Linked DNA regions of Homo sapiens. The protein of the gene in region 2 interacts with the protein of the main gene of each other region in a biochemical or structural test. Each region holds a gene or a part of one and is shown on either strand. Other genes may lie near its edges. The genes, in order: UBXN11, RND3 and SKP2.

Region 1 (7,698 bases), on a different chromosome or scaffold from region 2:
CGCAGCTACTCGGGAGGCTGAGGCAGAGAATCGCTTGAACCTGGGAGCTGGAGTTTGCAGTGAGCTGAGATCACGTCACTGCACTCCAGCCTGGAAAACAGAGTGAGATTCTGTCTCAAAAAAAAAAAAAAAAAGAATAGAGACTTCCAGAACCATCTAGCCCCAGAGCTGGGGTCTACTTCCTCACCCTGCAGGTGGGAAACAGGTCCAGAAAGAGCCTTGTTCAAGACCTCCCTCCTCCCAGGCCAGGGCCTTTGCACCATCATCAGACTGAATATCCACCACTGGATGCGATCAAGATGAGGCTGGGCGACCCCATCTCAGAAGTCCAGAGGGAATCCTTCCAGCTTGGAAGTGGTCGGATGGGTCTCCAAGGCCCTCACAACACTCAAGTCTTGTGAGCCTGGAGACCTCAGAGATTTCCAGACCTTCTAAGATGTGGGAAGAGAAATATAGGTTAAAAAAAAAAAATCAGATGAGCTTAGACTCTTGGTTTCTTTTATAATTTTGTTTTTGAAAAAACACCTTTTTTTTTTTTTTTTTTTTTAAGACAGAGTCTGGCACTGTCGCCCAGGCTGGAGTGCAGTGGCGCAATCTTGGCTCACTGCAACCTCAGCCTCCCAGGTTCAAGCAATTCTCCTGCCTTAGCCTCCCGAGTAGCTGGGATTACAGGCGACCGCCACCATGCCCTGCTAATTTTTGTATTTCTTTCTTTTCTTTCTTTCTTTTTTTTTTTGAGATGGAGTCTTGCTCTTGTTGCCCAGGCTGGAGTGCAGTGATGCGACCTTGGCTCACTGTAACCTCCGACTGCTGGGTTCAAGTGATTCTCCTGCTTTAGCCTCCAAAGTAGCTGGGATTATAGGCGCATGCCACCACACCTGGCTGATTTTTGTATTTTTAGTAGAGATGGGGTTTCACCATGTTGGCCAGGCTGGTCTCAAACTCCTGACCTTAGGTGATCCACCCACCTCAGCCTCCCAAAGTGCTGGGATTACAGGCATGAGCCACTGCTCCTGGCCTAGTTTTTGTATTTTTTAGTAGAGACAGGGTTTCGTCATGTTGGCCAGGCTGGTCTCGAACTCCTGATCTCAGGTGATTCACCCACCTCGGCCTCCCAAAATGTTGGGATTACAGGTGTGAACCACTGTGCCCAGCCAAAAACTCCTCCTTTTTGGGCCGGGCACAGTGGCAAGAGGGTATAGTCTCTGCTACTTGGTAGGCTGAGAGGCCGAGACTGGAGGATCCCTTGAGCTCAGGAGTTCAAATCCAACCTGGGCAACATAGACAGAGTCTGTCTCTAAAAATAAATAAATGAGCAAAGAAAGAAAAGAAGAACACCTTTTCAGGAGCAATAATGCAACAACATTATAGGAATTTTTAAAATAGTGTATATATTTTTTTCAGCTGTTGTCCCCACTCATGCTGGGGCCGGTGCCTCATTATGGAAAATTTAATTTGTACAATAATCCTAGGAGGTAGATTCTATTAGTATCTCTACTTTACATTTGTAGACACTGAGACTCTGACAAGTGAAGTATCTTGAGCAGGAACAGCCAGCTATTAAACGACAGAGCCCAGCCTCATAGAGTTGTTAAGTTATGCTGGTCCACAGTACAATGTATCCCCAACAAATGATGGCTCTTATTATTTTCCAAGTTTCTCCAGTGAAATTGTATATTTTTATAATAAGGCTCTGACTTTCCCAATAAATGTTATTTTTTTAAAAAAAATCAAACCAGAAGGGCACGGTGGCTCACACCTGTAATCCCAGCACTTTGGGAGGCTGAGGCGGGTAGATCATGAGGTCAGGAGATAGAGACCATCCTGGCCAGCATGGTGAAACCCCATCTCTACTAAAAATACAAAAATTAGCTGGGGGTGGTGGCACTTGCCTGTAATCCCAGCTACTCAGAGGCTGAGGCAGGAGAATTGCTCGAACCAGAGAGTTGGAGATTGCAGTGAGCTGAGATCACACCACTGCACTCCAGCCTGGCGACAGAGTGAGACTCTGTCTCAAAAAAAAAAAAAATCAATTGACTCGGGACAGGGCGCAGTGGCTCACGCCTGTAATCCCAGCACTTTGGGAGGCTGAGGTGGGCGGATCACAAGGTCAGGAGACGGAGACCACACTGGCCAACATCGTGAAACCCCGTCTCTACTAAAAATACAAAAAAATTAGCTGGGCATGGTGGCGTGTGCCTGTAGTCCCAGCTACTTGGGAGGCTGAGGCTGGAGAATCGCTTGAATCTGGGAGGTGGAGGTTGTGGCGAGCCACGATCGTGCCACTGCACTCCAGCCTGGTGACAGAGCAAGACTCAAAAAAAAAAAAAAAAAAAAAATCAAACGACTGGCCTGCCAGGTTAGAGGGCTCCCATTTTCCTCCCAGGAAATAGATGTTTACTGAGTGTCTGCCTGCTGCGGAATCTACAGCCAGGCCCTGGGTGGGAAGAAGGGATGGGGTAAATCCTGGTGCCTGGGTAAATGCCACTCACGATCTGGTTCTTGCTGAGGCAGGAATCAGAGGGCAGACCACAGCAGGGCTCATGAGACCAGAGCTCCTGCTTCCCACGCTTGCTTATCTCCATGAGCAAGGTGACAGTATGAAGTTGCTACTCACCCTGACCATGGGTCCAACCTCAAAAAACACTTGGCCCCGACATGATCTCAGTCTTTCTCATCTTCATATACCTAAAACCTCAGAAAACTTTCTGGGAGCAGCTCAGCAACAAGAGAGCTCTTCCTATGTCCACTCTCCAGTCACACTTTCCGCCCAGACTCCTCCCTTGGCAGTAGGTCTGTACCACCTTCTTCCTTGGCTTATCTATGCCTGCCTTGTTTACCAGAGTGAAAGTTTCTAGGAAGAGCGTGGACTCTTGAGGCTGACCGTTCTGGGTTTGAATCCACTTCTGCTTCCTGCCTTTATAATCTTATGCAAGCCGCTGTACTACCCTGAGCTTGTTTTCTCATCTGTTTTTTTCTTTTTTCTTTTCTTTTCTTTTTTTTTTTTTTGACAGAGTTTCACTCTTGTTGCCCAGGCTGGAGTGCAATGGTGCGATCTCAGCTCACCGCAACCTCCGCCTCCCAGGTTCAAGCGATTCTCCTGCCTCAGCCTTCCTGAGTAGCTGGGATTACAGGCATGCGCCATCATGCCCGGCTGATTTTGTATTTTTAGTAGAGACGGGGTTTCTCCATGTTGGTCAGGCTGGTCTCGAACTCCCGACTTCAGATGATCCGCCTGCCTCAGCCTCCCAAAATGCTGGGATTACAGGCGTGAACCACCACGCCCGGCCCTCATCTGTAAATTTCATGTTACCATCTGGTACTTGGCACTCAGTAGTAGTAGCTCTCTTTAGCTTCCAATTTGCATATAAAGAATGCTGTCCACTTTGGGAGGCAGAGATGGGCGGATGGCTTGAGCTCAGGAGTTTGAGACCAGGCTGGGCAACATGGCAAGACCCCGTCTCTACAAGAAAATACAAAAACTAGCTGGGCGTTGTTGTGCACACCTGTAGTCCCAGCTACACTGGTGGCTGTGATGGGAGGATAGCTTGAGCCTGGGAGGCGGATGTTGCAGTGAGCAGAGCCTACCCTTCCCTGAATGTGGTAGGCTAGAAAGTCAAACGGAAAATTAAAAAAAAAAAAAAAAAAAAGCAACAGAAAAACACTCTTGGGTTGTGCAGAGAAAGGGCTTTTGAACCTGGGCACAAAGAAGTGAGTGCCTGAGATCAGAAATCATAAACTCCCAGACCATCACAGCTGAAAGGGTGAAGAGATGATGATGATGATTAACAGCAGGAAACGTTTTTGAAAAAGTGCTCTCTACAGGTGTTTCTGTTTCGGCTTTCCCCTTTAAAATCGTGTACTTTGCATTACCTTATTTAATCCTCACGGCAACCCAGTGGGGGTAGGTATTATCACTGTTTTACAGATATAAAAACTAAGGTGTATAAAGTGCCCAAGAACACACAGTAAGGAGCCAGGACTCCTAATTCCAAAGTTCGTGGTCTTAACTGCCTTTAGCTGTTTTGGTGACTGAGTCTAATCCAACACAATTTTACAGATGAGGCTCTGGGAGGGGAAATTGTCTTACCCAACTCTTAACACAAGGGAACTAGAATTTGGGCCGCCCTTCCGGGCGCCAATCTGGTCAAGGATTTGTCACAGAAACTCAGATTTAGGAAACATTTATTAAGTACTTGCATCATTGCAATCCATCCTCAAAGCAGCCTCCGTGAAGTATTACAGTACTTCGTGTTACAATACTGATCATATGGGGAAATAAGCTAAGAGGGATAATTCCTCCCAAGATCAATTTAGCAAAATAGCGGCACTGTCGGGATCACACATTCAGGTCCTGAATGTGAGGCTGCCAGCAGTTTCATTAACCTAATCCCAGGCTCCTTCCTCCCGCACCTGAGGGTAGGAACGAACCACCCCCCCCCCCCACCCCGCCCCGGACCTGGAGCCCTCTCAGAGCGGTGCATTCTGGGATTCGCCCGCGAAGAATACCGACTCTGTGGGCCAATAGAATCCGAGCACAGGCGACTGTATCCACCTTCGCTGTCTGCAGGTTGCTCAGGCCTCCCTCAAACTAGCCAATGAGAAGTGCACGGGTCCTGGTCGCCTAGGAAACCGCGTGACAACAAGATGGCGGCGCTGCGGGACGGCTAGCGGCCCTGCGTGGTGAGTCTGGCTTAAGACCTTTCTGCCCCTGGAGTCCCCACGCAGGCTGGAGCCCGAGCCCCGAGGGCCTGCGAGCTCCGCGGCTCCCACAGGAGAGGTTCAAGACCCTGCTTACCATGACTACGCGTGGAGGCGGAAGGAGGCGACACGGCCTCCAGGGCTGGGTTAGATCGTGATAGACGTCGCTCCCTGAGCGCGTCCTGGGGGCATTAGGGAGTCCTGGCAGCGGGCCGGACCGTGTCCCCGCCAGAGCTCTGGGCTCTGGGGATGACGGAGAGGCCGAGGAGGTGTGAAGAAGAATGTTGTGAGTCAAGCACAGCACTGAGTTTGGTTCCAAAGATGTAGAGGCATGGTGCAGAGATTTGCTCTCAGAGCCAGGTCTGAAGTGGGTGACAACTCTGCCTTAAGGACCTTTTGGCCTGAGGGGTAGTCACAGTCCTGCCCTTGGAAGCCCCAAAGTGAAGGAGTTAGGCGACTGTCCTCAGGGCTCCCTAATCTGAAGGAGAAAGAGATATGCCCCTGCCCTCAGGAGTCCCCCCAAACGGACAGGGAAATGCAGCCTTTGCCTTCAGGGGCCCTTGTAATCTGGGAGAAGATTAACCTGGAGACAATGTGTCGGACTGGACTGGAGTGACACTGGAAGTAGGGAAGTCAGTTGGGAGCCATGTGACAGCCCCCAGAATGGGCAGTGAGAGTCCCACTAGGACGGCCGACGGTGGCCATGGAAAGGGGCAGCTATATGTGAGAGAGTTTAGCCTGCAGGGTTTGATGTAAGAGGCAAGATGGCGTAAGAGGGAAGGAAGGAGAGAAAAAATGTGGTTGGGTGATGGGGTCCCATTAAGAAGGGGGAAGTGGGAGGAAGTGAGTTTGACGAAAATGTTGGATTTGGTTTAGGAGTTTTGTTTTTTTTTCCCATGACAGCTTTATTGAGATATAATTCACGTATTACATACTTCACTCCTTTAAAGTGTAAATTTCAATTTTTAGTATATTTTAGTATATATTCCATTTATATGAAATGTGCAGTGTGGGCAAGTCTATAGAACAGAAAGTAGATTTGTGGTTGCCTAAGGCTGCCTTGGAAAAGGGGTGGGGGCTGGAGGGTAAATTGGGGGTGACTGCCAAAGGGTACAGGGTTTGTTTAGGCTGACGAAAATGTTCTAAAATTGTGATGGTAGTACAGCTCTGTGAATATACTAAAAAGAAAATTACACTGTAAGAAGGTGAAATATGTGAATTATATCTCAAAGCTGTTTTATGAAAAAGGTTGCATACTGTATAATTCCATTTGTGTAACTTTTTTGAAGTAAGAAAATTATAGAGATGGGCCAGGTGGGGTGGCTCACGCCGGTAATCCTAGCACTTTGGGAGGCTGAGGCAGGAGAATTGCTTGAACCTGGGAGGCGGAGGTTGCAGTGAGCCGAGATTGCGCCATTGCTCTCCAGCCTGGGCGACAGAGCGAGACTCCATCTCAAAAAACAAAACAAAAAAAGTATTGAGGGGAGCTGGGTGAAGGATACAAAGGATCTTTCTGTACTATTTTCCTAATTTCCTGTGAATCTATAATAATTTTCAAATAAAAAGCTAAAATATAAGTGAAAAACAAACTGAAGGGGAAAAAAAAGAGTTAGCTGGCCAAGGGAAGGGTGCAGGTAGGAGTGGGGAGACCGTTCTGGGAGTGGGGGGATTGAGGTTGAGGCAGGGGGGATACACATGCATTTGAGGCATTGCTAGAAGTTGAGGTGGCTCAAGTGTGGGAGGCGGCAAGATGGGAGATGAGGTCAGGAGACATAAGCAGGGACCAGGTCACCTATATCAAGGAATTATGAATTTTTTTTTGAGATGGAGTCTTGCTCTGTCACCCAGGCTGGAGTGCAATGGCGCAATCTCTGCTCACTGCAACCTCCGCCTCCTGGGTTCAAGCAATTCTTCTGCCTCGGCCTCCCAAGTAGCTGGGATTACAGGTGCCTGCCACCAAGCCCGGCTAATTTTTGTATTTTTAGTAGAGATGGGGTTTTGCCACGTTGGTCAGGCTGGTCTTGAACTCCTGACCTTAGGTGATCCACCCTCCTCGGCCTCCCAAAGTGTTGGGATTATAGGTGTAAGCCACCGTGCCTGGCCAGAATTTTGAATTTTTTTCTGTGGGTGAGAAGTGCTGGGATTATAGGCATGAGCCACCGCTCCCGGCCTGCTTTATGTTTTAAGATCTCTCTGGTAGCACATGGGAACTAATGAAGGGAGCCTTGGCCATACAACCCGTGAGGCTGCCCAGACAGGGCAGGGGCTGGGGCAGGGTGGGGACAGATTTGGGAGGCTGGATGCTGGGGGTGAAGAAACTCTGGGCCTGATCCTTGAGGAGGGCTCCTTCCAAGGAAGGGGCAGGGCATGATTCTCAAACTCTGCAGTGAAGGCATTGGAGGCTGCCTCCAGGCAGCATAGATTCCCTTGCTGACTGACTTCAGAAGTAGGGTTGAGGCCAGAACCAGACATCTTCAAAGTGGAACTTCTTGGATTTGTCCTAAAAAATTTGGTCCAGGCTGGGTGCAGTGGCTCATGCCTGTAATCCCAGCACTTTGGGAGGTCGAGGGGGGCGGATCACCTGAGGTCATTTACTGAATAGAGTAGTAGCCTTCGATTATGTCCTTCAGGTGCACTCCTTTTTCCAGAAGGAAGAGGAAAGGAAAGGAAACTAACATTTACGAGTGCTTCCTATGTGGCAGCAACAGCAAAAACAACAGCAGCCCCAACTCACATTTTTCAGTGCTTCCTTTGAGCTTGGCGCTGGGCTAGACCTTCTCTGTTATCTCTGAATCTGCTCAGAACCCTGCCTGTGCCAGTACTATTACGACCCCCATTTTATACTAAAAGAAACTGAGGGTGGGTTACTCCAGTGAGTGGCAAAACCTGGCATCTTAACCTTGGTGTCACATGGACTGTGTCTTTTTTTTTTTTTTTTTTTTTGAGATGGAGTTTCGCTCTTGTTGCCCAGGTTGGTTGGAGTGCAATGGTGCAGTC
Region 2 (7,873 bases):
CAGCGTAATAAAGCCAAGAAGTGTACAGCTGGGAGAGATCCTGCACATCATCTAGCTCAGTGTCCTCTTTTTACAGATGATGAAAATGAGACCCAGGGAGATAGGGGATTTGCACACAGAAATCCATGGTAACCAGGAGCTAAGATCTAAACACAGCTTTGTATCAACGACTGGTTCAGACACACTGCTCCACCCCGTGCCAAAATAATTTTTATCGTGCATTAGGTCCAAACAGGGCTGCCGGTTGGGGCAGGGAGTACTGGTGCTTATTATCGGTACCACACCAGCTGTGCCATCCAGTAGGCATAACAAATACATACCATGATATGTCTGGGAATCAGAGCCCATTAAGTACCAGGCTGTAAAATAATTCTGATAGGAACTACTGAAATAAGGAACCACTTGAATTCTGTCTACCAACACCTTCTCCAGAGTTTCGAGTCTGTGTACCATCCCCAACAGAAAACACGGCGGCAAAGTCCTGATTCTGCTGCCCTTGGAACGGCTGAGAAAGAGCCTGACTCCAGGGGGAAACAAAATCAGCCCTTCTCACTGCAGCAGTCGGAGCATCTGGCACCGACCATGAGAGGCGCTCGCTCGTGCGAGACTTCTCGCTTGCCTTTGTGCTGGGACTGCCTCTGGCGACCCTGTCAGTCTGGTTCCTTCCTCTTGCTCTCTGAACCCCCGCGTCCCTCGGGGGCTCCAGCGGTTCAAGCCCAGCGGTTCTGTGGGAAGCTCACAGAAACACCTCCACGAGGCCACTCCCCGCTGGGCGCGGCTCCACCTCGGGGCCTCCCCGCCTAACAGCAAACCTGCTTGTTGGCACTTGCGCGTTCCTCCTCGCCAGTTTCACCCGGATTTGGCTCGGTCCGCCAGCAACCCAGCTCCTTGCTAAATTCCCAGCCCTAAGCGCAGGGGCCTTTACCCAGCCTTCCCAGTGGGTCCTGCTTTTCCATAGCCGACACCCTTCTTGGAAACAAACTCGCTAGACACCGCTGGTTAGGGCGGCGGGTGCCTATGTCCCAGCCCAAGACCTCAGATGGTGCCCCCCTGCCACTCCCCGGCCTTTGACCTGGCCTAAACCCCTAACTCAGCCGGGGGGCCGGATGCCTTCCCACCGGGAGGGTACCTAGCCCTCCCTACCACCGCGCGCCAGGTAGGTGGGTGGGCGCATGGGAAAGCAATAACCCGGCCTTGAACCTCAGACCCATGAATATAACCCACCGCGGCGCCAATAATTCAAGTAGACTGGAAGGTCAAAGGCGAATAGTGTTGCCCGCGGCCTTGGAGGCAAGCCGAGTGGGGGATGCAATAGAGGTCAGGAGGGGCTGGTGTGGTGAAGGGGAAACGGACGTGATCACTGGGATGGAGTGGGGGAAAAAGGGAAAAGCTCGGTACAGGTGGGCACCGAGGCACCGCGGGCGGCCGGCAGCGCGAAGAGGAGGTTCAGCTGCTGCCCGGCCCCTGCGCCACCAGCGCATTCCTGGGTGTAGGCGTCACGGGCGCCGCGGCTGCCTGCGCTCAGTTTCTTTCCCTCAACAGCGGCAATTGCACGTAACCGCGTCGCCTCTGGGATTTTCTCCCGCCTCCCATCACCCCCGCGGCGCTCCCCGCCTCCCCGCCAACCAGCAGGTTAGATCTAGGAGGGGCGCCCGCCTTGAGCCGGGTGGTTCCGCCGAGGCGCACGCAGCGCCCATGCAACACCCCACAGTATCGGGCCACCTCGGCCGACCCAAGGCGACTTGACCACGACTCCGCGGGCGGACTGCGCCTGGCCACTAGTGGCTCCAACCGCGGGGTCACCCTGCGGGCACACAGCGCTCTCCTCTCCCCACTGCTATCTCCTCGTCCACGCTGTCGTCTGCCGCCCCCACCCAGAAGGGATACAATTTTCGCCCAACAGGGACCGTGGGAATCCCTTGGGAGGGGCGCAGACGGCTTGTAGCGCGCGGTTTCCCGAGACCCGCCGCGCATCCCCCAGCGACTGGAAACCCGCCCCAAGCGCCACGCGGTCCTCCCACTCTTACCCGAAGTGTCCCACAGGCTCAACTCTATTCTTTGTGTGTCGATTTCAAAACTGGCCGTGTAATTCTCAAACACTGTAGGAACGTAATTCTGGATAGACAAAATGGGCAAAAGAGGAAGGAAAGAGGGCAAAGAGGTTACGTTTAAACGCACGACACCCATTGAACACCCTTCCCCTCCCCGCTCCCCAGTTAAGAAAGAAAACCTTCACACATCAGACCACACACTAAGCACATGGACCCTTTCCGAAACCCCTGTCCTACTCCCCACTCACCCCACCCGGCTCTCACAGATCTGCTGACCCGAATCTCCCAACCCCAGGTTATGCACACAGGAACGAACAAGTTTCAGGAGCTAACCAGCCCATGTGCAGGCGCGTCCCAACCCTAAAAGCTTCCAGCGCACTTTCCCTTTCCCCGCAGTCTAATCAGGGGAAAGTAGTAAGGACCGAGAAAGACTTTTTTTTTTCTTTTTTTTTTTTTTTAAGGGAAAACGGATGAAAGCGGGGAGGCCCACCTCGGGACTGGGATCCCACTGGCCGACCCCCTCGTGGAAGCCGCGGCCGGCCACACTCACCTCGGGGAAGCAGTCCTTGGCGAAGACATGGAGCAGCGCAGTTTTTCCACACTGACTGTCTCCCACCACAACTATCTTGCATTTCACGTTCTGATTAGGATCCATGATAGATTTGCTGGATAATTTCTGGCTGGCTCTTCTCTCCTTCATTGATGTTGCCTTATTTTCTCTTGGAACAGGAATTTTCTCTTAAGAAGAAAAAAAAAAATATATATATATATATATATTTCTCTCTTTATAAAAAGCAGATATAAAAATAAATCACAAGGCTGATGGGCAACCTCTGAAACGCGGCGCAGACGAGGAGGAGAGCGAGAGGAGCAGGCTGGTTACTCCCCTCCAACAAGTTTTAAGCCTGACTCCTCACCGCGCCTCCCAAGTCCAATTCCGAGCCGACTGCTTTGTTTCACGCTCTCTGCGCGGCTTTATACGCCCGGCCTTCCAATCCTCTTCTTTCTCAATGAGAGGAGGAAACTGATCTGCCTCCTCCCCTTTTATGGAGCCTGGGAGCGAGCGCTGTTGGCGTTGCATGCCGAAAATGTAAGCAGTGCGCCCTCTAGGGTGCCCATTCGGGATCTATTTTAGACCAAGGCTCTTAGACAACATGAAGATCCCAAAGATGCTTTGCTGACAAGTCCACAGGGCAAGGTGGGAAACTGGTATCTGTGCATACTGATTTGAACTACAATCCCTTTAAATATAGTTTAATAGGGGCTTATCTGTAGAAGCCTCATGAGCATTTATGAAAACAAAAACATTTCCCACCCAAGTTAAAGGACAGTGATAAAACATAGGAAGCAAATCTTGGGTGGAGAATAGTTGAGTGGTTCTATTTTTTTTTTTAATGGTTTGTATCAGGTACATAGGCCATGGACCAATAGATCAGCCTCTTTATTCCAGATGCAAGAACAGGCTTGCCTGGGTCACGGTAGTAGACTGGCTTCTGAAACCTGTCAGTTTCAGTCGTACAAGTGGAGGCAGAAAGGTTTCGAGGGGTGGGTACAGGAGGTGGGAGGGGAGAAGAAAGAGAAGTGGAAGATGCCCATGACTGAGTGACAAAGGCCATTGGAAACTCAACCCTACTGCGCTAGGGACCCAAACACTTGTCAGCTTAGTTGCACCTCCCCACATTTGCAGTGAGGGGACTGGTGGGGGGGCAGATTTTGATACTATTAATTCTTTATCTATAGCCTCCATCTTCCCGGAATCAAAGCACCCTAGACTGGACTCAGAAGGCACAAACATCTTTAGCTGAAAAATGCAGATACAACCCTCCACCCTCTCTTCTGTCCTCCTCCACATCCATCTCCCTAGCCCTCCAACTCTTCCCCGCAAGCAAAAATCTTAGAAAGGACCAGAATAGCCCGCACATTTGTTCTTTTTCTATGAGAAGTCTTTCTTTTTCTCATCTTCAGCTCCTGCACCCTAAATGCTCAGGAGGTTTCAATTGTTACAATGTAGTAGCACACTGGCCAAAACCAGCTTATATGGTCCCCTGTGGAGACTCCTAGGCTTGTAAATGAGAAGATAAGGTGAAAACAAACAAATCAGAAAGTTTAACATGGGAAGTGAAAAGGCACAATGAAGAGTTGTCAAAAGCACTGATGTAAGTAGTGGACTGGTAGGGCCCCTGAAGCCTAGGGGATCCAGGAATGATGTCCTATTTGGGGCTGAGAAAATTGGAGCCCCCTCAAAGATCATTGACTCAGACTCCATCGGTGGGTCTGTGTTTACACAAGGGGAGGGTTGACCCACAGAGAAGCGGGTTGCTGGCCCTGCTAGGGTTCCTAGAGCAGCCTTTGCCAATGTTTGTTCTTCTGAGCTTTAGTTCCCTCCTGACACAAAGGGTGCCATGGCCCAATTAGTGAGGGCGACACTGTACCCACATCACTCACTGAAGATTCGCCAAGCACACTAATGTTACAAACATTTAAAAATCCCAGAGAAAAGCAGACTATTTAACATAGTTTAACCTAGCATTTCCCAAAACTACTTAACACAGGAAACATTAATCAAATTATTCACGTTTGTTTACTTGTTTAAAGAGCAATGGGCATAGTAGTTGGGGCAGGAGATCACAAAGAGGTGTATTTGGGTCCCCAACTTCACATTTTCTGTATGACTTTGGATGGATTATTTAGCCTCTCTGAGCCTCAATTTCATCATCTGTAAAATAGGAGTCATAATGGTAATTATGAGGAAATGCAAGTGACGTTTGCAGAATGGTTTCTGGCACAATAAAGAGTCCTTGACCTGTGTTATAGTTTGCATGTAAAATCTTATTTGCACTTTTCAGAACTGTTGAATGTGTCTTGAGAAATTCTGGCTTCATTGGTGGACTCACTAATTGGAGCTGTGTCCATCCTATCTTTTGTCTTATTTTTAACTTAATGAAATTACCCCTTTCCAGAGATATGATTTGACCTCCCATATTTCAGAATTGATGTAGTTTATATGGTTAAATCACTTTAACAGAAATAATTAAGAATGTTTATGAATTGGCTGATCAATGAATAGGGTAACCACATAATTTATCATCTAAGCTGGGATTTGAGAGCAAAAGGGGCACTACCAATGATTGTGGCTGGACAACAGAGGTAAACAGGGTCTATCCCAGGCAAAACAAGATGCATAATCACTTCACCATAGAATCATCTGGAATCATAGTGGATGACTATTTTTGGAAATCAGGTGACCTGAATTTCCAGGAATCTGCCAGTTGCTGAGCAAAATTTAATGGATGTATAACAGAGTAGAAAAACCAACTGCCTGAAGTCACCAGGATTTGAATCCCTCTAGGGTAAACATTCTTCCTTTTCCTTTTTAAAATCTCTAGTGTTCAGTGTGAAGTGGATACTTAATATATTTTAAAATTCATCTAACATTTAGTTTAACAATTACTTACTCAGCATCTGCTGTAAACCAGGCACTGTTCTAGGAACTGCAGATAGAGCAGTAAACAAGACAGATCTGTTTGCTACTCTCAAAAAGCATACATTCCAGGCAGGAGATAGACAGTAAATAAAGAAGTAAGATCACCCCATGTTTTTCTTCATAGAAAACATGGCACGGCATTATTAAAGCATAGTAAGGTAGGGATCAGACCCATGGTCCAGCAGAAGGATGCTCACAGACAGTGGAAAGGTTACAGGCTGGAGGGAAAGGGCTTGGTAGGTTTGAGGAATAGAAGAAAGGCCAGAATGACTAGGGCCTGCTGAAGGAGGGAGAGTGTAGGTCGGGGAGCAAAAGGAAGCAGGCAGGGGCTGAATAATTGGCTGTAGAATTTGGATTTCATTCTCAGGGTAATGTGAAGTCAGTCATGGCAGGACTTGGAACAGGGTAGCAGCATGATTACATGAATGAATGAATGAATGAATGAATGAATGACTCCAGTTCTTCGTCTGCACTGTCACTCACTAGCTGTGAAACCTTGATGAAACTGCTCATCTTCAATGAGAATATGGGATCCAAGTATACCTAAATTCCTGGAAAAGACTAAAATTTTAGACTGCAATAAAAGGTTTTCCCCTAAGAAACACGTTCATTTAGAAAATGTGACGCCTTACCTGGGAGGATCGTATATTACCTAGCGTGCTTCCTTTTGTGATTCTTGCTTGTCTTCCTATTACTCTCTCCTTTTTCTCATTTATCCTTAAGACCAAGAGAACAGAAAACCAATAGTAAATATTTCTCTATGATTTAGTTAATAGAACACATTCAGGTGCCCTAAAAGGTTTGAGTTCAAAAATTATTTTCTTTGTGGCTAACCCTTTACTTACCAGAGGAAATCTCCCCTCCCATAGAAACTACATACCCTTTGACACAAAAAGGGCTGATTCCAGGCCTGGAGAGAGAACCAATTGAGAAAGAGTACCCATCTACTTCCCATCTAGGGATAGCACAAGACTGATAAACAATTGTTTCTGAGATTTGAGTGACTACAAGTCAGGGACTTGGGTTTTAGTCCAGGCTAAACCAATGAACTATCTGTCCTTGGGCGAACACTGACTAAATTCTTTTCCGCAGTTTCATCCTTATGTGAGGATGATAACATCTGCCTCCTTTAAGCTGCACAATAGCACTGCTTAAAAAATCACGTGCCCTGCACTTTCCAAAATTATTCTTTAGAAACACACTAAAGGCACCCCCCTTTTCATGTTCAGTGTATTTATGGAGATCTTGGCCCACAGTGGAATATTGTAAGGCATAATCCCAATAGTTTATTCACAGTCACCTGCCTCTCTTCAGACTCCAGCAGAAGTGTTTGAAGGAGCAAGTGCATAATAAGGAGGAAGCACAGGTTTCTTATAGGCATCATCAATGGAGCAGAGAGATGGCTGACATCAAAGCAAGAAAACGTGCAGGATGCCTTCATAGATGTTATGTCACAAAATATGGATATGAGTCATGGGCATTCTCTTTGAGAATTTAATAAGATGACAGATATTAAATAGTTTCAAATATAGGCATTTCAATACAAAATTAAAGACAAGCGTGTAAACTTGTAAACTGCTCTGTACTGAAAGGTGGCAATTTCACAATTGTCTCTTTTTGGGGTGGTCAGAAGAGGGTGATCACTCAGTCTTATAAAACATCAACAAAATAGAAGGCATTTTTTTTTGAAGTGAGGAATTGAGGAAAGAACATTCATACAATTTAATGGATTGAACTGGTTATTTAGGAAGAATCTGTTTTCTTGGAAGAGAATCTTTTCCTTTATTTTCTCTTAAAATTATGCCTATTTGCCCTCTCAAGGACACTGCACTAAGTTGTCTAGGCTGTGTGGTAAGAGCACTCCAGTCTGGGTTGAAACATTCAGCCTTGTTTTTTCTCATGAATGCTAACTGCGAATATGATTTAACTGCTGCTGTATTGACTTAGTCCTCACTCTTTAGCCAAGAGGAAATGACACAACTTTGTGAGTACTGAATAATAAGTCATTTTGAAATTGATCATCCCTTTCTCTGTTTATAGTTAATTTAACAAATAGTCCGTTGCATTCTTTAGAAACCCAGACCACATGATTTTGGTTCTGTGTATTATAGGGCACAAATAACCCTTTCCACCTGCCTCTTCAAATTTCAGATCTTTGATGCCTGATGCCATTTGTTTATACTTCAGTATTTCCTAAGTAAAGAAAACAAACAAAAATATAAAACTATCAGACCCATTGATTACTTTATCTACTAAACACCCAATTATACTTTATGTCAATTTGTCAGTGAGATATGAAAAATATTTAAGGAATTGCCCTAAGAAAACATTTTTAAGG
Region 3 (7,103 bases), on a different chromosome or scaffold from region 2:
GTGAGCCACCACACCTGGCCCATGCTTCCCTCTTAATGGAAGAGTCCAGTCCATTCTTCTTACAGCAAGGCGTAGGGGCCCATTACAATCTGGTCCCTGACTCTCCTCACCTTGTCACTCTCCTCCCTTAGTCCTGTGCTCCAGCAACTTCCAACTACGTAAGAGTTTAGAACCACACAGGAAGTTTTACCTAGACTGGTTGCTTTGTCTTATTACCTAGAGATCTCCTACCTAGATATCTTCAATACTCAAGAGTCACTTCCTCTAACAAGGCGGCTCCTCGTGTGTTGCCACATATTCACTGAAACATTTAATAAACACACTGCATGGTAATTATCTGTCTTGCTCATAAATAGTTTACCTTCTTGCAAGAGAAAATAGACATGTCTTGCTCAATGTTTCCTCTTGCAAGAAGGTAAACTATAGCTTAACCAGCATTCACTAACAAGGTGGGAAAAGTTTTAGAGCATTCATTTTCTTCCCAAATAATACACATGCATTGTTCATCCTTGTACTTGTATCTCTAGAACCTAGCACAGGGCCTGGCATATAGTTAGCATTCAAGCTTTTGTTGCTTCAATGAGTCCTGAAAAGTTTTGCAGAAGCTAGAGCACTGCACTAGATATTTTCTGTATCCACCTGGATATGGCTAGAAGGGCACCCCAGTTATATACAGGGAAAAAAATTCATACACATAAAATCAACTGCCTTTGTGACACTCTGCCTGCCACTCACTTGACAATGGGATCCGAAAGCCGCAGGCCTTCCAGGCTTAGATTCTGCAACTTGGAACACTGAGACAGTATGCCGTGGAGGGTGGACACTTCTATAACTGAGTTCGATAGGTCCATGTGCTGTACACGAAAAGGGCTAAACACGGAGAGAAAAAAGGAGCTCCATAGGTGGCTCTCACGGGTACATCCAATTTCAAACCAGACCCCTCTTCTCCCCAAATGAGCAGCCAATCACAAACAAGACTCTAAATACATACTTCAAGCATTAACTATAGGGTCATAAAACATATTGCTACTAGTGTATTCCCATCTTCATTCATTTTAAAATGCAAGAGGATTTTTGCCAAGTACAGATGTTGCTGCCAATATAGTCCCACTTAGAAAATAACGAGTGGGCATCACAACAATGAGCTGGATGTGGGTGACAAGGAGATTAAGACCATAACGGCTCCTGGTTTCTGGCAGGGGTGAGTGGGTGAGCAGCAATAGAACAGGGAAGGTAGCGGAAGAGAAAGTTTTAAAGGGAGACCAGGCTGGGCGCAGTGGCTCACGCCTGTAATCACAACACTTTGAAAGGCTGAGTCCAGTGGATCACGATGTCAGGATATCAAGACCAGCCTGGCCAGCATGGTGAAACCCAGTCTCTACTAAAAATACAAAAAATTAGTTGGGCGTGGTGGCGCACACCTGTAGTCCCCAGGTGCTCGAGAGGCTGAGGCAGAATTGCTTGAACCTGGCAGGCAGAGGTTGCAATGAGCCGAGATCACGCCACTGCACTCCAGCCTGGGTGACACAGCAAGACTCCGTCTCAAAAAACAAAAACAATAAAAAAAAAGGGAGGCCAAATTTGAGTTATGCTAATATTGAAGTCCTTGTAAGAAATTCAGGTACAGACGTTTTTAGGTAATTAGAAATTTGGGAATTTGAAAGGGAGGGCCAAGCTATAGATGAGGAACTGAGAGTCCTGGGCATAAATGTGGGTGTAGAGGACACAGCTTGTCCAGGGACAGCATTTGGATTTGAAAAAGGTGGCAGCCAGGAACCGACCCTGGAGTGAACAGAGGAAATCACATATGTGAAGGAGACTGAGAAGGAACAGCCACAGGAGGAACAGGATAAAAAGCAGTGGGAGAGGCGGTCCTGACTACGGAAAGAAGGGAAAAAGTACTGGAGTCAGGAGACATGTTTTATCTTTAGCTTTGTTGTCTTCAGCTTGTTTTTCTGTTCAGTACCTAGTTATTCTACTATGTGATAGCAGTAACCTCAGTATTGCAAAATTATCAGAACAGAAAATTCTTTTTCAAAATATTCTACAAAACAAACAAAAAGAGGGCATTTTTTTCAGGTTCCAAATTTCTCCAAGACAAAAATCATAAACCCCAAGCTACAAACATGAAAAGACTCCTCACTTTTTTTTATTTATCAGAAATGGGCATTGGGGAAGTAACTGGGCACCCTTGCATCTGCCAGTGAGTGCTTTACTTGTGCCTGCCTTGTGGGACTCACAGTCCCCCTATCAGCTGAGGACTTGAGAAGACAAATGTGCCTCTTTCACCCTGGGAAGAGACTAACAGTAAACTTGAGTGAAATGGGAACAGTGTCATTGAAATCTATGCTAGGTTTTAGCACAAAGGCCCCATAGCAAAGTATGGAATTAACATCCCACACTGCACAGATAACCTACCATAGGCTTTAAGGCTGAAGAAAGAAAAAAAAAAAAAAAGCTTTGATCTGTTTCTACCTCGAAATTTAGAAATAGTCTTTTCCAGGGATTTTTCATCTTTACCTGAAATGTTCAGCCAATGGTTGGTCCATAAATGATCGTGGGCAGCGGAAGGCAATCACCCCTTGAGACAGCAACCGACCAGTCACATCCGGGTGCAGATTTTTACCTGTGAGGTCTAAGGTCTGCCATAGAGACTCATCAGACCTATAAAAGAGGAGATACTTAATTTGGCCAGTCGGTCACACTAAATGCTGGAAGCCCTCAACAACATTACTAACAGGTAGGACACTGCTGCTAAATCTCCTTGAAGCATATTCTAAAAGAACTTTTGTTTTTAAGTTGGCTATACAATTAGCTATGATATTTTTAAGGCACTAGAGAATTTTTCTTGATTTCACCAGGGATAAGCTTCCATCTTTCTCTTTCTATATACTTCCAATTTAGATGGTTCAATGTGAACATTAGCACTGCCGTGATCTAGAACCAGAGAATCATATTCCAGCATTCAAGTTGACAAATTTAAAAAATGATTGCTCAAATCAATTAATTATTATATTACTAGGCAAATAGGATCCTCTAAGAAGTTTTAAATCTATTTGACACTTTTGTCAAGCAATTATGATTACTGTAGCAACATGGAAAATTACTAAAGGAACGAAAGTTAGCATTATTTTATTATGAAATAAGGCTGTCATAGATATTCAATAGCAACAGTCATGGTTCAGCTGTGCCTTATAATATATTTGAAGCTTAAAACATACACGTGTATATGTATGTGTACATATGTGTGTGTATGAACTAATGTGAAATAAGGGAAAAATACAACGGATTATAGATGGTGTTTCTAAAACAAAAGGGATGTTCTAAAAACGTACTGAATAGCACAGTAAGAGGGTTTTAATATCCATAGTTTAATTCAATTTAAAAAAAGAAAATGTGAAATATAAGCACATGAAGGAACATTTTAAATGCTTAGGTGTACTAGAATTTTCTTTTTTAATAGTGCTTGAAATAAGTGGACCACTGGCCAGAGTTATGAAATAACTTCATCATAAAAAAATTGTCAGTGTGATTTGTGTGACAAATCTATCATTAAAAAGGTGGACTGTAGATAAGATATCCTTAAGAGAGTGGCACACTTTTGTATCTTTCTTGCCCAGACAGAAATCCATTTTGGCCTCCAAGGTATTGGTATTGACACCAGATCAGCACTGCTCTGGTTGTCTTGAATCTCATGCTTGATGTTTCCTCTTGCAAGAAGGCAAACTATAGCTTAACCAGCATTCAATAACAACAACCTGGGAGAAGTTTTGGAACAATTCATTTTCTTTCCAAATAATATACATTTTTTAGGAAGATGAACACCTCACAGAAAAATGAATTTGGGAGCTACCTGAACCCTAAGCCAAGCATAACTAGATATGGTATGATGGTTAAGACCGTGGAGTTAGCCAAACTTTAGATTCCTGCCTTTCCACTTATCTCTCAACCTACTATTCCTGACCCTGCAGTTTCCTCACCTCTGAAGCTGAGATGACACAAACACCATCACTTAAAATCATATGGAGGATTAAATTGCAAACACTGCACCTGTCACAAAGCAAGTGCTTAATAAATGTCAGTAATTACTTTTATGACAACTGAGATGAAGTTTAACAGACTCTAAGGGAGATGTAGGTCAAAGAATACAAAGCCACAGATATGCAGGATGAACACATCCCAAGATATAGTATACAACAGGAGAACTAGAGTCGATAATACTGTATTGTAGTCAGAATGTTTGCTAAAAGAGTAAATTTTAGGTGCTTTTGCCACAAAAAATAGGTAACTATGTGAGATAATGAATATGTTAATGATAGCAGCCATTTCACATACTTATAACAAAATATCATGCTGTATACCTTAAATATATACAATAAAATTTTAAAATGGGATTAACAGACTCTGCAAGAAGAGGATAAATGCATAGCTGGCAGAAAAAGAAAACCAAAGTGGGGTTGAGTGCGGTGAGGGTAAGTGAAACTTGCCTGCCACTTGCACCAGCATTCCAGGTGTGCAACCCTCTCTGCGGCTCTTCTAAGCAAACAACCCACACCTGTAAATAGCAGCACGCCCTTGAAGGCAAGAGGCTCCTGCTATCTCACACAGGGAGTTCTAAGTATGTGGAGGGAGAAGCCAGACGGATGGCCTTTAAACACAAAGCAAAGAATGACCAGGAGGTAGGATAGGGATGAGAAGGCATGAAGATAGTAAAAAGTTCCAGTTGATAAACATAGCCTTTTTCTTGCTCCAGGCCTGTTATTGCCTTTCCAGCTCACCAAGTCTTTCCACATGCAACTCACCTTCCACACTTGAAAAGTGTTGCCAAAAAAAGAGCACAACCCCACCAATGGCTACTCTGTGTGGAACATGTCTGTGAGTCAGGCATTACACCAGCATCTTCACATTTCATCCTCATAACCAGTGGTTTCCTCCTCATAACCATTATCCCCATTTACATATGGGGAGACTGAGGCTCAGCAGTGTCAACTAACTCACTCAGGTCATGCAGAGCGTAAGCAGCAGAGGCTGGGTGTGCACTCGGGTCTAACACCAAGCCTGTGTTCCCTCTCCCTATTGTGCTCACTGCTCAGCCCAGCGGCGTGAGGAACCGCTGTCTGCATGCACCTCTGTAACTCTCTCCGCACTTAAAGCACACCGCCTGGCCTACAGTCAGCATCCCATAAACACATGCTGCACTGAATACAGGGCAAAGAGGTTTCCAGACATTGGTAAGTTTATCCCTCCCAGGAAATTCCTCTTCCACTGTGAAATGAGGACACTGATTAATAAAAATATGAAGATACCTAGTTTGCTTTGCGCTGCTCTATTTTTCTTGGTTTTTAGTTTCATCAGACCAAAACGAATAAATAACCTTCCTCTCCTCTTCCTCCCCTACGTTTGCCAAAGGGGTGAAAAATACTTACGCTAGGCGATACCACCTCTTACAAACACCAGAGACCTTTAGCAGCTCAGGGAGGCACAGACAGGAAAAGATTCCCAAGAGCAGCTCATCCGGAAGGGAGTCCCATGAAACACCTTTGGAGGGAAAACAAGTGTTTGCCATCACCATTCTTTCACCCTATCAAGTCTACTGAGTCTTTTCAAACACATAAAGAATATACAACATTTAGCTTAAATGAGGAATTTAGCACAAATTAAATTACTCATCCTCACAATTATTTTTGTTTGAAAAATCATTTCTGTTGAACAGAAAAATAATTGTGGTGATGAGTAATTTAATTCGTGTTAAATTCCCCATTCCATCATCTATGTACCCTGAAGTGACCACCACACTCTCTCAGCAAATCAAAAAGAGAAACCCAGAACACTTTTCCTATTCTTCCCTTCAGCTCTAGCCAGCCAATCGGAGGCTGTGGCATGAAGAGTGGTACAGAGCAAGTCCCACCCTCTCAAATGTCATTCAATGACATTGTCAATTCATTGACATCAATAAGATATTGTGGTGCTTCTGGGTGCAAAGGAAGGCCTTGTTTCTCTCTGATGTGGACTCAGTAGTGACCTTATTTAAAAGGCAAATAAATCTTCTTCCCTTTCTGCTATGGTTGGCTGTGTCCCCACCCAAATCTCATCTTGAATTGTAGTTCCCATAATCCCCATGTGTTGCGGGAGGGACCCAGTGGGAGGTAATCAAATCATGGGGACGGTTACCTGGTGATAACCGCCCCTGTAATTTGATGCTGTTCTGGTGATAAGTGAGTTCCCACAAGATCTTATGGTTTTACAAGTGGCTTCCCCGACCCCTTTGCTCTGCACTTGATGCCGCCATGTGGAGAAGGACGTTTGCTTCCCCTTCCACCAAGCTTGTACGTTTCCTGAGGCCTCCCCAGCCAGGCTGAACTGTGAGTCAATTAAACCTCTTTCCTTTATGAATTACCCAGTCTTGGGTATGTCTTTATTAACAACATGAGAACAGACTAATATGCTTTCTTTCAGGTTTACAAAAGGCACAGTTTACCTAAAAGAGCAATACAAAAGGGTATTGTCATTTCTTAATTCAACAAATATTTACTGAGCTCCTACTATGGTGCCAGGTATCATTTTAGGTGTTGGGAAGGAGTAGTAAATCAGACCCAAAACACTACCTTCGTGGGACTTCATTCCAGTAATGCGGAACAGATAATCACACATCAAAAAATAAGTACATTATATGATATAGTAAAATTGATCTGTGCTGTGCAGAAAAATTAAACAGGGCAAGGGAGAGAACAGAGAGTTCAGAGCAGATGTTATTAAGTTTGAACATGGTGGTCAGGGAAGGCCATACTGAGATGACGATCACTAAGCAAAGGCTTGAACAAAGTGAGGGAGTGAGCCCTGTGAGTATCTGGTGTACGTGTTCTAGATCCAAGGAACAGCATGTGTGTTTGAGGCATAGCAAGGAGGCCAGTGTAGAGCGCAGAGGTAGGTGGGTAGAAAAATCAGAGAGCAGCCAGGTCATGCAGGCTTCCTAGGTCATGATAAAGCCTTTGGCTTTGACGCTGAATTCTATGAGGCACCACTAGAAGATTCTGAGCACAGGAATGACAGGCCCTCACGTAAGTTCAAAAAGGATCACTCTGGCTGCTGTGTTTAGAACAGAA

Evidence for each region.
Region 1: the proteins of RND3 (region 2) and UBXN11 form a complex in vitro, tested with the Homo sapiens proteins (one study listed by BioGRID).
Region 3: the proteins of RND3 (region 2) and SKP2 form a complex in vitro, tested with the Homo sapiens proteins (one study listed by BioGRID).

What each region holds. Positions count from the first base shown.
Region 1 is NC_000001.11:26,303,577-26,311,274, reverse strand, and holds the start of UBXN11 (UBX domain-containing protein 11), read left to right. Parts: upstream 1-4,638; 5' UTR 4,639-4,683; intron 4,684-7,698. UniProt on the Homo sapiens protein: May be involved in the reorganization of actin cytoskeleton mediated by RND1, RND2 and RND3. Promotes RHOA activation mediated by GNA12 and GNA13.
Region 2 is NC_000002.12:150,484,667-150,492,539, forward strand, and holds the start of RND3 (rho-related GTP-binding protein RhoE precursor), read right to left. Parts: upstream 3,002-7,873; 5' UTR 2,883-3,001; exon of another isoform or gene 2,790-2,882; 5' UTR 2,752-2,789; coding exon 2,602-2,751; intron 2,116-2,601; coding exon 2,028-2,115; intron 1-2,027. UniProt on the Homo sapiens protein: Binds GTP but lacks intrinsic GTPase activity and is resistant to Rho-specific GTPase-activating proteins.
Region 3 is NC_000005.10:36,162,080-36,169,182, reverse strand, and holds part of SKP2 (S-phase kinase-associated protein 2), read right to left. Parts: intron 5,539-7,103; coding exon 5,427-5,538; intron 2,665-5,426; coding exon 2,521-2,664; intron 871-2,520; coding exon 736-870; intron 1-735. UniProt on the Homo sapiens protein: Substrate recognition component of a SCF (SKP1-CUL1-F-box protein) E3 ubiquitin-protein ligase complex which mediates the ubiquitination and subsequent proteasomal degradation of target proteins involved in cell cycle progression, signal transduction and transcription.